3 separate regions of the Homo sapiens genome follow, and all the other regions are linked to region 1. The links come from fine-mapping of genetic effects on plasma protein levels. Region 1 holds a variant in brackets. A gene starts in each other region. All regions are shown on their reverse strands.

The links. PIP is the chance, under the fine-mapping model, that this variant and not a neighbour inherited with it causes the effect. Protein levels are from antibody-based Olink assays in UK Biobank. Linkage for the fine-mapping came from a reference panel and not from the study's own genotypes, which makes the PIPs less certain.
Region 2: it holds the start of PRG3, and the variant in region 1 is fine-mapped to the plasma level of the PRG3 protein (UK Biobank, PIP above 0.99).
Region 3: PAPPA starts here. The variant in region 1 is fine-mapped to the plasma level of the PAPPA protein (UK Biobank, PIP above 0.99).

What each region holds. Positions count from the first base shown.
Region 1 is chr17:58,193,339-58,197,338 of GRCh38, reverse strand. EPX (eosinophil peroxidase) reads right to left here. Exons shown (of 13, transcript NM_000502.6): 3 at 3,793-3,968; 4 at 3,508-3,625; 5 at 3,247-3,376; 6 at 2,169-2,375; 7 at 82-400. Among named protein-coding and RNA genes, the nearest start is that of EPX, 2.6 kb to the right of the region's middle. The variant G/T (reference allele first, on the strand shown) is at 2,199.
Region 2 is chr11:57,379,502-57,383,669 of GRCh38, reverse strand. It overlaps PRG3 (proteoglycan 3, pro eosinophil major basic protein 2), which reads left to right and starts at 2,520. Exons shown (of 6, transcript NM_006093.4): 1 at 2,520-2,556; 2 at 2,889-3,022; 3 at 3,863-4,168. The coding sequence starts at 2,962. RefSeq lists an enhancer at 3,132-4,168.
Region 3 is chr9:116,151,615-116,155,782 of GRCh38, reverse strand. It overlaps PAPPA (pappalysin 1), which reads right to left and starts at 1,992. Exons shown (of 22, transcript NM_002581.5): 1 at 1,196-1,992. The coding sequence starts at 1,610. RefSeq lists a silencer at 126-215.

The DNA of each region.
Region 1 (4,000 bases):
CCACATCCCACCATTGCTTCCCAGTTGGGACCCCAGGGATGGCTGTTTCCTGGGAAGACACCACCTTCCTCCCTGTCTGACCTGCCAGGAAGCAGGGGATGCGCGCCGAGCGGTTGGTGAGGAGACAGGGGTCATCGTGCAGGTTGTCGAAGGGCAGCAGGGCCCGGCCGTTGTCTTGAAAGCGCTGGTTGATGGCCAGCAGCCCCAGGTAGTTGGTCCGGTTGCGGAGCCGCAGCGAGAGGGAGACCTCACTGCCATACACCATGCTGGCGTCCACAAAGGAGGTGAGCGCGTTGATCTGGTTGCGGACTCTGTTCTTGTTTTGGGGGCATGAGGGTGCCGAGCGGAAGAAAGGGATGCAGTCACGCTGGTTCTTGATGCGGGGGTCATTGGGTGGGATCTGAGATGGAAGAGGAGACAGTGACATGGGGCCCCCTCAATAGCAGACTCACTCCTCTCCGTCATCTTCCACCTCCTCAAAACCTTGCTTAAAACTCCCTTCCTCCAGGAAGCCCTCCTTGACTCACCCAGGCTCATGCTGCTCACCCCGTCAGTCTGAGTGTCCTTAACATTTTGTTTCATAGAGTCTCAAAAGGTTAGGAATGAATGAGGCTTTTGAAACAATCTCGATCCTCATTTTACAGCAAGGAAAACAGCCTCAGAGAGGGGAAGTGACAACCAGTTAGCAGGAAAGGTGGGATTAGAACTTAGTTCTCTTGACTCTTAGGCCTGAGCTTCTTTAATTCTGTTCAATTCGACAGACCTTTTCTAAGCCCCTTTCTTGCTTGCTGCTTTGGAGATTATGAAGGTTAAAAAAACACAGGAAAGGTTGCAGGAAGCTGGCAGTTCAGTGGAAAAAGACACACACACATAGAGTTAAGAAACTAAGTTGAAGTGGCATCTGCTGTGCTTGATAGAAAAGCCATATGTGGGCCAGGTGTGGTGGCTCACGCCTATAATCCTAGCACTTTGGGAGGCCGAGGCAGGTGGATTACATGAGGCCAGAAGTTTGAGATCAGCCTTGTCAACATGGTGAAACCCAATCTCTACTAAAAATACAAAAATTAGCCAGGCTTGTTGGCACATGCCTGTAATCCCAGCTACTCGGGAGGCTGAGGCATGAGAACTGCTTGAACCCAGGAGGCAGAGGTTGCAGTGAGCTGAGATTGCCCCTCTGTACTCCAGTCTGGACAACAGAGTGAGATTCTGTCTCAAAACAATAATAATAATAATAAAGAAGAAAGAAAGAAGGAAAGATAAAGAAAGAAAGGACGGAAGAAAGAAAAAGAAAGAAAAAGAAAGAAAGAAAGGAAGGAAGGAAATGAAGGAAGGAAGGGAAGGAAGGAAGGAAAGGAAAGAAAGAAGAAAGAAAGAAAGAGGAAGGAAGAAGGAAGGAAGGAGAGAGAGGAGAGGGGAGGGGAGGACATATGTTAAAAGTGTAATAGGAAGATCTGAGAAGGCTCCCCAGAGGAGGTGCCCCTAAGCCAGGGATTGAGGAATAGATAAGGTTGCAACAGGGAGAGGCCATCCAGAGGCCCTCACATGTCATCCCTCATGAATGTGGCCCCACCTATTAAGGGTGACTGTGTGTGTACATGTGTGTGTGAGAGGGAGCGTGTGTGTGCACGTGTGTGTGTGTGAGAGAGTGTGTGTGTGCACGTGTGTCAACCCTATGTTCCTAGCAGAGACTCTGCTCCCTGGATTCTATCTTTCCTCCCCTAGTGCCCCACACTGTCCTTGGCTTCTAGCCTGAAGGTTAGGACCCTACTTACAGCCCAAGCCCAAGAAGCTGGCAAGAGCCGCAGGACCCTTGGACTACTCTGGGAAGGAGAGAAGGGCAAGAGCTAAGAGGCCCTTAGGTTGCCAAAAGCAGGGGCCCAGAGGCTTCCCCTGTTGGATTCAGACCCATGGGTCAAGGCATGTGTCAAGGGCTTCCCACTCCATGAAGCCTGACCTGAGCCTCCTGGCAGATTGCCCTACCCCCACCTCTCAAACACACACGGCGCGGGGTCTCTGCTCAGCTGTGTTTCTTGTGTCTCTGTCTCATACCCTAGCTCCACAGGCAGCTCCTTAAGGATGGTGCTCCAGTCTTCCAGATCCCCACCCCCAGCACCTTGCCTTTGGGGGAGGCCACACAAGGGCATGGGAGATTGGCTGAGGGTAGGTACCTTGATGGGAAAGCAGGGGGGCAGCTGGGC[G/T]CAGGTCCTCTCACAGTCAACGCCTGCAGTGAAGGCCACTCTGGCCGGGGACTCCGGGGAGAAGTCCAGGTCATGGTCAATGAACTGGCCCCACTGCATGAACATGAGGGCTCGGCCACGGTCGGAGGTCAGTCTCTCATTGGGGAAGCGCACAATCTGGTTGGAGACAGCCCGGACCTGGTGGGGAAATAACATCAGCACGGGACATGGGCTCCCTGACCCCACAAGGTATTAGAGCCAACCCAGGACTCAGGGAGCAGCAGCTCCCCTGCTGGAATTGACAGCCTCTCCTCTTCTGCCCTCCATGCCCCTTTTGTCCCTGGAGGCGTAGCCACCTCCTGCTCTCATTCCTAGAAGGATGGTTTCTGGCTGGGCTCCTGAGGATTCCGGTGGTAAAGAGAAGGAGAGGGGCTAGGTTGACTGGCTCAGACCTCACCAGCTCTCCCAGAGGGGAAGGGAGATCAAATAGATAGATCAATTTGTACACTGATAGCTAACCAGATGATAGCACGGATTCACAGGTGCATGGGCTGGTTGCCAGGTGATGGATAATACACGTAGGGAGTACGGGGTCAGCAGATGGAAGGGTGGATAGAAGAAAATTAATTAATAGATGTTGATAGATGGGTAGATGATAGACTGCTCTATCGATATATCAATAGAAAACTGATGAGTTGATAAATGTGAAATAGATCAATAGATAAAGCCAGATTAAGGTATAGAGCTGTTTATATTTAGCAAGACTTTGACACTAATTTTCTCAGAAAAAACCGTACAACACCGTAATGGTTAGCATGAATAGATCATGTCCTCTATAGCTATTTATACCAAGGACTTCAATATCCACACAGGCTCTACGAGGTAGGTTTTAGGGCCATTTTACAGATGAGGAAACTAAGCCTCAGAAAGCTGTGTTATTTGCCTCAAGTCACTGCACTGGTCAGTGGAAGGGCCTGGGTTCAAGCCCTGCCTGCGTGACTCTGGGCTGTGTTTTACTCCCCGCATTTAAGAGATCAAGCAACCTCCCAAACCCTCAGCCCCAACTCACAAGAGGGAGAAGGAAGCCATTGCGCCTCCTGCTGGGGGTCCAGCCGAAGGGGAGCGACAGCCCATCCTCATACTCGGCGGGCAGCCAGCGAGCCAGAGCCTGGTTGGAGGCCCCTAGCAAGGGTCTCCTCCTGCAGCCATGGGTGGGATAGGTTAGCAGGGGGCAGGGCCTGGAGATGGCTCAGCATGGAGGGAGAGGGTGGGTGCAGGAAGGGAGAGGTCCCCCAGGCAGGGGCAGCCCCTCCTGCCGCCCCGCACGCACTTGTTGTTGCACCGTCCAGTGATGGTGCGGTACTTGTCGCTGCAGCGCTCGGCCTGGTCCCGGAGAGCACAGCCACTGGCCTGGGACAGCAGCCGCAGCTGTGGTTCTGTTAGCACATCTGTGGGAAGGCAAATGGGCAGACCTGAGCTGGCCTGCTCTGTACCTCCCATCCCTTTACCCTCTCTCCTCCCAGCACCCCAAACCTGTGCACCCTGCCTCCCTCTCCTGGATTCCTTCTACTCCAGGCCAGGGTAGGCCCAGCGGGCTCAGTGGGGATCAGAGTACCAGTGACATTGAAGGGTCCGGACCGCTGGGGTTGTAACTTCTCTTCAAGCAGCCCCAAAGCCACATGCATATAATCTGCGGCCCGAACAACTGTCCTGGTGGCTGCTACCGGTTGTTTGAAGTAGGACAGGAGGTCCATGGGGCTGGCTGAACCGCTGCGAAGCCGCTGCTTGATGCTGCCCAGGAGAGGAGGAGTGAGGGCTGGAGA
Region 2 (4,168 bases), not on the chromosome of region 1:
AAATGGGGGTCTATGCCTCCACCCTCCACCACTAGGGAGGTCTCAAGCTTGAAATCCAGTGACCAGGTTTTTAGGTCCTGGACCTGGCCAGTCCTCCTACAGTCAAGTAGATAAGTGGAGGGTTTGGTCCGTTGGGCTACGGAGATAGTGATCAAGGCCGTTACTCTGCAATCAGACTCAGAAATGGCCTCTCAGTTACTTCTCCATTTGTGGGTCTTTTGGAAGAGCAGAGAAGAGGAAGGAATTTAGGTCTTCTCACCCTCTGGGCTGCCTGTCCCTGCTCCCTGAGCCATGGAGGGCTGGGGTGGAATATGGGGAATAAATCTGTACTTTTTTTTTTTTTTTTTTTTGAGACAGAGTCTCGCTCCGTCGCCCAGGCTGGAGTGCCGTGGCGTGATCTCTGCTCACAGCAGCATCTGCCTCCCGGGTTCAAGTTATTCTTCCACCTCAGTCTCCTGAGTAGCTGGGATTACAGGTGCCCACCACCACGCCCGGCTAATTTTTGTATTTTTAGTAGAGACAGGGTTTCACTGTGTTGGGCAGGCTGGTCTCAAATACCTGACCTCAGGTGATCCACCCGCACATGCCTCCCAAAGTGCTGGAATTACAGGCATGAGCCACCGTGCCCGGTCCTACCAATCTGCACATTTTAATTGACAAGGGTCACCCTCCACTCATGTGCCAGGCATAGTTCTGAGAAGCATCCCACAAGGATGCCTCTGAGTTCACCCTGACAAGTCCACTAGCTCTTGGCAGAGACATCTGGCAAATTCAAGGCTTGAGACATGCTGGCCTCTCTTTAAAGTGCAGCAAATTTTGTCTAGAGCTTGGTCAGTTAAAATTTTGATGTTTTGTTTTGCATTAATTTCAATTTTTAAGAAATGTTGCATTAAAATGTTATTTATCTTGAATAGTAAATTTCTTAGTGTCCCCTTAATTTCTTAGTGTGTCTGAGTTGAGAGCCTCCCCTGCCTGATTCTAGTCCAGACCCTGGGGTGACAGAAGACTGGTGGGAGATGGGAGGTGAGGAGGGGAGTGTTGGTTGGAGAGGATGATCTACAGAGTGCTGGAGAGACTCTGTATGGAGCTTTTCATGCTGCCTGTTTGCCAGCCCTGAAGCTATGCCTTGAGGTTGGGCAAGGTGGCATATCCTAGATCAGAGATCCTCAACTGGGGCCATTTTTCTCCCCAGAGGACATTTGGAAACATGTGGAGACATTTTTGATCATCTGCGGGGGTGGGGAGAGGGGCTACTGACATCTGGTGAGTAGAGACCAGAGGGACCATTAAACTTTCTACAACGCCCAGGACAGCCCCTCCACAATAAAGAGTTATTTGACCTCACATATTAATAGCACAAAGTTGAGGAACCTTGATCTAGATCCACAGCACAGAAGAAAGGATGTAGATTTTTCACACATTAAAGATGAGAAAGCTTGTGCCTGTAATCCCTGTGACTCAGGAGGCTGTGGCAGGAGGATTACTTGAGCCCAGGAATTCAGGGTTACAGTGAACTATCATCGCAGCACTGCACTCCAGCCTGGGTGACAGAGCAAGATTTTGTCTCTTAAAAAAAAAAAAGATGAGGACAGGCACAGTGGCTCATGCCTGTAATCCCAGCATTTTGGGAGGCCGAAGTGGGTGGATCACGAGGTCAGGAGTTCAAGACCAGCCTGGCCAGCATAGTGAAACCCCATCTCTACTAAAAATACAAAAAATTAGCCAGCTACTTGGGAGGCTGAGGCAGGAGAAGCGCTTGAACCCGGGAGGTGGAGCTTGCAGTGAGCCAAAATCTTGCCATTGCACTCCAGCCTGGGCGACAGAGCAAGACTCCGTCTCAAAAAGAAAAAAAAAAAAGATGAGAAAGAGGAAGGGAGAGAAAAAAGAGAGAGAGGAAAGAAAGAGAGAAGGTTTTGGAGTCAAAAAGACTTAGAAATTCCAGTTCTTCCACTTCCCATGGAACCTTGGCAAGTTGCCTTCTCTCTTTCTCTGAATCTCACATTTTGCCTCTGTGAAGTAGGGGTGGTACCTGGTGGAGATGATGCGGAGATGAGGGTGAGGGGTGTGTTGCACACTATGCCCCTAGGATGGGTGAGAGCTTGGGAGCACTGAACCTCCCTTTCCCCTCTTGTTTCTTCCCCCCATTGTCTCCCACCAGCTCCCTGGGATCTCCACTTCACTCTCTGGGATTCCACCAGCAGGAGGCTACTCCTGGAGTTAAGGCGTGTTGTTCAGACTGGGGCATTTTAGGGGGCATAAATAATAATTATGCCTGGACAATGGACATAACATCTAGGGCCTTCTGAAGCAAACCAGGGTGTGGGGTACCCAAACAAGGCAGTAGGCCCCAGGAGGCAGGTCCCTGCAGTCCCAGCAGAGAGCAGGGCACAGGGTTGAGAAGACTGAGCAAACTTCATTATCAGCTCCTTTGTCCCCCACTCTGTCCTGGAGCAATCATTCTGGCCTCTTCCCACTTCCCCAAAAACCCAGTATAAAGGCTGCTTCTGGCCCCTGAAGCCAGAGGCACTGAGAGTGGAGGTCTCAGACTCTTGGAAGGTGAGTTCTTTTCTGGCTGCCCAGGCAGGACCAGTGTAGGCCCTGGGAAGAAGCAGCACCTCATAGGGCAAACACGTAGGAGGCCTGTCCTTAGGAACATCATAGCTAAGCAGACCTGTCCCCGCAGGGGCAGGAGTCTGGGCTAAGGGTGATACTGGAGAGCAGCAACGGAGACTGGAAGACAAATGAAATTTGGTACCTGAGTTATCCCTCCCACCATTCCTTTTCTAGACTCTCCAGCTCAGGGTCTGTTCATGGCAAGAGGAGAAAGCAATCTTGTTTGCTCTTTAATCAAACAATTAAACAAATATTCCCTCTATACTATGTGCCAGGGGCTATACTAGACACACAAAGACAGCCCCAAGAAGGACGGTGGAGTAGTGTCCTCGCTAAAAGACAGTAGATATGCAATGCCTCTTGCTCCTGCCCTTTCTCCTGCTGGGAACAGTTTCTGCTCTTCATCTGGGTAAGTCTCTCCCTTCCCTCCTCATGCGTCTTTCCCTTTTTTCCTTTTTCCTACACTCCCCTCCCCCCGCTTTTATTTGCACTCATGAGGCCAGGACCACAGCCTTCCCTCTTTAGCTGATACAGCTCATCTCCGGTAAGATATCACTTGGACTCAGAACTGTAACCTGGAACTTTCTCTTTTTTGTTTGATTTTTTTTTGTTGTTGTTGTTTTTGTTTTTTTTTTTGTTTGTTTTTTGTTTTGTTTTGAGACGGAGTCTCGCTCTGTTGCCCAGGCTGGAGTGCAGTGGCGCGATCTCGGCTCACCACAAACTCCGCCTCCCGGGTTCAAGCAATTCTTCTGCCTCAGCCTCCTGAGTAGCTGGGACTACAGGCACATGCCACCACGCCTGGCTAATCTTTGTATTTTTAGTAGAGATGGGGTTTCACCATATTTGCCAGGCTGGTCTCAAACTCCTAACCTTGTGATTCGCCCGCCCCGGCCTCCCAAAGTGCTGGGATTACAGGCGTGAGCCACCGCACCCGGCAAACTGTAACCTGAACTTTCAGAAGGAAAAACCACCCACCTGTTAAGATGAAGGGCTGGTGACTGCCCCAGGCTTCTCACACGTGCTTTCTCCCACCTTCAAAACACACACTCGTGGTGTCGGCCAGAAGTCAGGTTCTTGTCCATTTGTGGGTGTGACCCGAGAGATCTCTCCTTACCTAACACCAAGGAAATCCTCCAGTCTTGTCTTCAGGTGGAATTCCTAGGAAAGCTCGAGCGACGTTGCTGGAGCTGTCCACGGTGCTGGAACTAGGAAGCTCTTGACCTGATGGCAGGTTACCTCTTCTTCCCAGAGAATGATGCCCCCCATCTGGAGAGCCTAGAGACACAGGCAGACCTAGGCCAGGATCTGGATAGTTCAAAGGAGCAGGAGAGAGACTTGGCTCTGACGGAGGAGGTGATTCAGGCAGAGGGAGAGGAGGTCAAGGCTTCTGCCTGTCAAGACAACTTTGAGGATGAGGAAGCCATGGAGTCGGACCCAGCTGCCTTAGACAAGGACTTCCAGTGCCCCAGGGAAGAAGACATTGTTGAAGTGCAGGGAAGTCCAAGGTGCAAGATCTGCCGCTACCTATTGGTGCGGACTCCTAAAACTTTTGCAG
Region 3 (4,168 bases), not on the chromosome of region 1:
GTGGGTCTCCTAAAGGGGTCTTCATGTCAACTGGATAGTCAGTGCTACATCTGTGAAAGTCCAAGCCATGGAAAGACAGGAAGAAGCAGAACTGCCCGGAGAGCTCACAGCTTTCCCTTCTAAGAAAGTGTGTGTGTGAGGGGGTGGGATCGCAAAACGCCTTCACACGTTTCCTGGCTGCAGTGAAGGGGGAACCCCTACTCTCACTTTAAGACGTCCCAGGACATGGCAAGATTGTTTGTGCAGAAAGGGAATCTCCCAGACAGAAAAGGCAAAACTTTCCTCCTCTCTTCCAGCGCCGCCCCCACCTCCGCTCCCCAGTTTTATTAAAGGCATTTCCACAGATTCATTTAGAGGGGGGAAAATGGATGCTGGAGCATTTCTAAGGTTTGCAATCCTCGCAAAGTGTCCGATTTCACTATAGGCTTTGCTGTGGAACAGCGAAGGGGAGAGAGAGGGAGGTTGAGGAGGGAGAACTCAAATTCATTACGGGCTCATAAAGTCCCATATGAGAAAAGCGCCCCGTTTCGCAGCCGCGTCTGGGGAACGCTGGCGGGGTATGCGTTAGGAAGGTCTCGTCCCAGCCCCGAGTGACAGGCAATGGGCTTTAAAAGCTAGGACATGGGATGGCGTGGAGGGGGTGAGGGTGAGTCCCAGAGGCAGGCTTCAATCAGTGAGCAACTTTGGGGCACTTCGAGGACTTCTAAGTCCTGGCCATTACAACAACCTTGCCCTTGCCGGCTTTCAGGGGAATGGGGCCTAATGAAGGGGAGTTACCTCCATTAAAACGTCAAAGAAATCAACGGTCCCCAAGTCTCCTTTCACATGCATCTCAATTGGGTCATCCTCCCTTTCATCCCAAAAGGAGAGAGTGCATCTGACCATTCGGAGCACGGGTTACGTGCCCTAGGCTCCGGGAACCAGCCCTCACTGGCCGAGGGTCCGCGGGGCCGCCAGGAGGGCTCCCCAGGTTCCTCCCAGGGATGGAGCAGCTACGCCTTCCGAGTGTGCCCATTCCACCGATGGAGCAAAGTGAGGCTCTCAGCTCGCCCGGATGTCTCTGCGCCGCTCGCGGGGCAGCTCTCGCACAGACACGCCCGCAAGCCCCCGACCCGCCCGCCACCCGCGCCCAGACACCCGCGAGCCTCTGGGGCCGCAGGGACGGTGCAGCGCCCGCCGAGGCGCCCTCACCTACCTGTGATCACTGCCGGAGACCTCTGGCCCCCCTCCGCTCGCAGCCACACTTGCAGCGTGAACGCGTCCCGGGGCAGCTCGAGGTCGGCCCGGAGGCGCAGCTGCTCGCCTCGCCCGCTGAAATAGAGCGCCCGGCTCGGCGGGCTCGGCTCCTCGGTGGCGCCCCTCGCCTCCCGCTGCTGCCGCCGCCGGGGGACGCGCACGGCTTCCCAGGCACCGCCCGGCGGCGGCGGCGGCGGCGGCGAGGCGCGGCGGCCGCGGGCCGCCCGGGTGGCGCAGGTGGCCGGGCCGGCGGCGGGGCGCGGGGGTCGGCCGGCCCGCGGGTCTCTCCGGGCCCGGCGGGGACGCTCGGCCAGCCCGCAGCCCAGCGCGGCGCTCAGCAGCCCCAGGTGCAGCACCCAACTCCAGAGCCGCATGTCCGACGGTTCCCCCCGCCCCCCCTTCGCCCCTGCACCGCCACCCGGAGCTGCCAGCTTTGGGAGCCTCGGCGCCTCGACTTTCTTCGCTTCTTCACCCTTCTTGGGCGAGCCCCCCTTTCCACTTGCTTTTTTCTTTTCTTTCTCGCTTTCCTCCTCAAGGTGTGTGCTCCACTCTCCCCACCTTTGAAAAATACAGCCCAACTCCTCCTGGTTGGCAATTAATTTCTCTCCCCGCTCCTTTATCTGCCTTATTTTTCCCCTAACAGCTGGTTGCCTTCCTCCTTGTTTTATTTCATTTTATTTTATATGATTTCTCGCTCCAAAAAAAAGCTCCTCTTAAGACTGATCCGCTGAATTCCCTCCCCCCAAAAGATGCTCTAATTTATTTATTTTTTGCGTCCTTTATAACACAAGCCACAGCCCCCTTCTCCCCCCCCAAGTCCCCCCTCCCCTCCCTCCTTCTTCTCAAAATGAAAGGAAAGAGGGGGAAAAAATCCCTCAGAAGATGAGTAAACAAGCGTATGCTAATCTGCTCCCCAGCGCTCCACCTTCCCAATTGAATGAGTCCCTGTTAAAACTGCGGGGATCATGACTAATCAATCAGTTTGGAGAGGCCGAGCTATCCAGCTTTCCTTCACTTTGCCTTTTGCCTCCTTTCCTTCGCTCCCGCTTCTCCACCACCCCCTCCTTTTCTCTCTCTCTCTCTCTCTCTTTTTTTTTTTTTTTTTTTAAGGAGACAATCTTAAAGTAACAATTTAATGAAATTCTGTACACACCCCCTTACGGTCCTCCCAGCTCTCATTCCTGCTCAAAACACACATTCCTGTTTTTGTTTTGTTTTGCTTGCTTTTTTTCCCTCCCTCACTCCCCCCACTTATTATTATTATTTCTGATGGCAGGAGAAAAATCTGTCTCTTCTCTTAGGATCCCCTTTGCACTTTGCTGGTAAACCTCATCCTTTTCTGTAGCACATAAAGAGTCTTGAAACTTGATTCTTAGATTTTTTTTTTTAATTCTCTCTCTCTGTCTCTCCCTCCCTCCCTCTCCCTCTCTTTCTCTTTTTCTCACTCTCTCCCTTACTCTTCTTCCCGCTTCCTCTCCCTTTACCTCTTTCCCTCTTCTTTTCCCTGTCCTTTTCCCTCTCAGAATTTCCTTAAAGTTGTACGATGATGAACCATTCCCCTCTTTTCTGAGCCCCCAGATAAGGCTGGCTTCAGCTAACCCAAATGTTTCCAAAGTTCTTATGGAATCATCAGAAGAAAATAGAAGAAAGGCACTGTCCAGGACATCTGCCTTTCAGAAGCTGTAGTCCTAGTACAACTGGGTCTCTGAATTTCCCCGAATACTCTTTAAAATACTCTGTTGGTCATTAGAAATTATTTTAATTTTATAAGAAGAAAATGAGAGAAAAATATTAATTTGCCTAATGTTTTCAACTTAAGCAATTCAGGTCCTCTGAAATTGTTAAAGTCACAGGTAAGGATCTGACCATTTGCTGCTTTGTAGGTCTGTTTTTGAACTGGGACATACATGTAATATATTTTTTTCTTCTTTTTTCCCCCTCTTTATAGAACTCAAAAGCTCCCCCTTATGGCAAAACAGATCTTCTTTTATTTTGTCCAAGTGTTTAATAAGTCAAAACATGTTAGCAATGGTGGATTACAAGCTATTAATTACCAATCTATTCCAATAAGGTAGTGATAAAAATATTCTGTGTGAAGTTTGCATGTGAATAGCGTGCTGAAAGTCTGCGATAAAATTAACTCCACTAAATTGTAACTTTCTTCTTCAATTGCTCTTATCTTCCGAGCTGCTCCAGATCTTTCTTGAGAGCTAGGAACATTGCTACACGCTTCAGGAAGAGAGAAAACCAAGGAAGAATGTTTGTTGGCAAAAGTATGACGATTTGTCGGATGAGCAAATGACTCAGACATCCCCTCTATGAAAGCTGGAATGCGATATATGCAAAGATTATGGAAGCTTTCTGAAAATGGGAGATCTCAGATTCATACCTTCCTAGTTTAGAAAGAAGTTGCTGAATAGTCTTAGACTAAGAACGTTTGAACTCTGTTTCTGTAGTCATAAAATGAAAATAGCACAATACCCTAAATGTGTTTCCAGAGACTGGCTGGAGGAAAGAAAATCTTGGGTGCACAATGTCATGAATAAAGAATTTGCCTAAGCAAATCTTTGACTTTTTGCAACTCCAAGTCATCTGTAAAAGGTTGCCATTGGATAAAAAGAGAGCTATGTTGAACAACATAAATTGTATCATTCAAAATCCCCCTTCCTCTCCAATAGAGGTTGGACCATGACTACTGATTTACTTCAGTTGTGGCAATTAGGCATTTAGAAACTGCATGTCTTCCAGGGGGATTTTAAGTCATTGTATACAATAATTTTGAATATTCCTAGACAACTGGGAATTATTCAATTCTCAGACCAGCAGTGGGAGCACAAGATTTTTACTTCTCATTTCCTACTCCCTCCAACACATATCAGTTCACTGGCCTTGAGTAAGACACTTCATTTCTCTTCCCTTCCACTTCCTTACC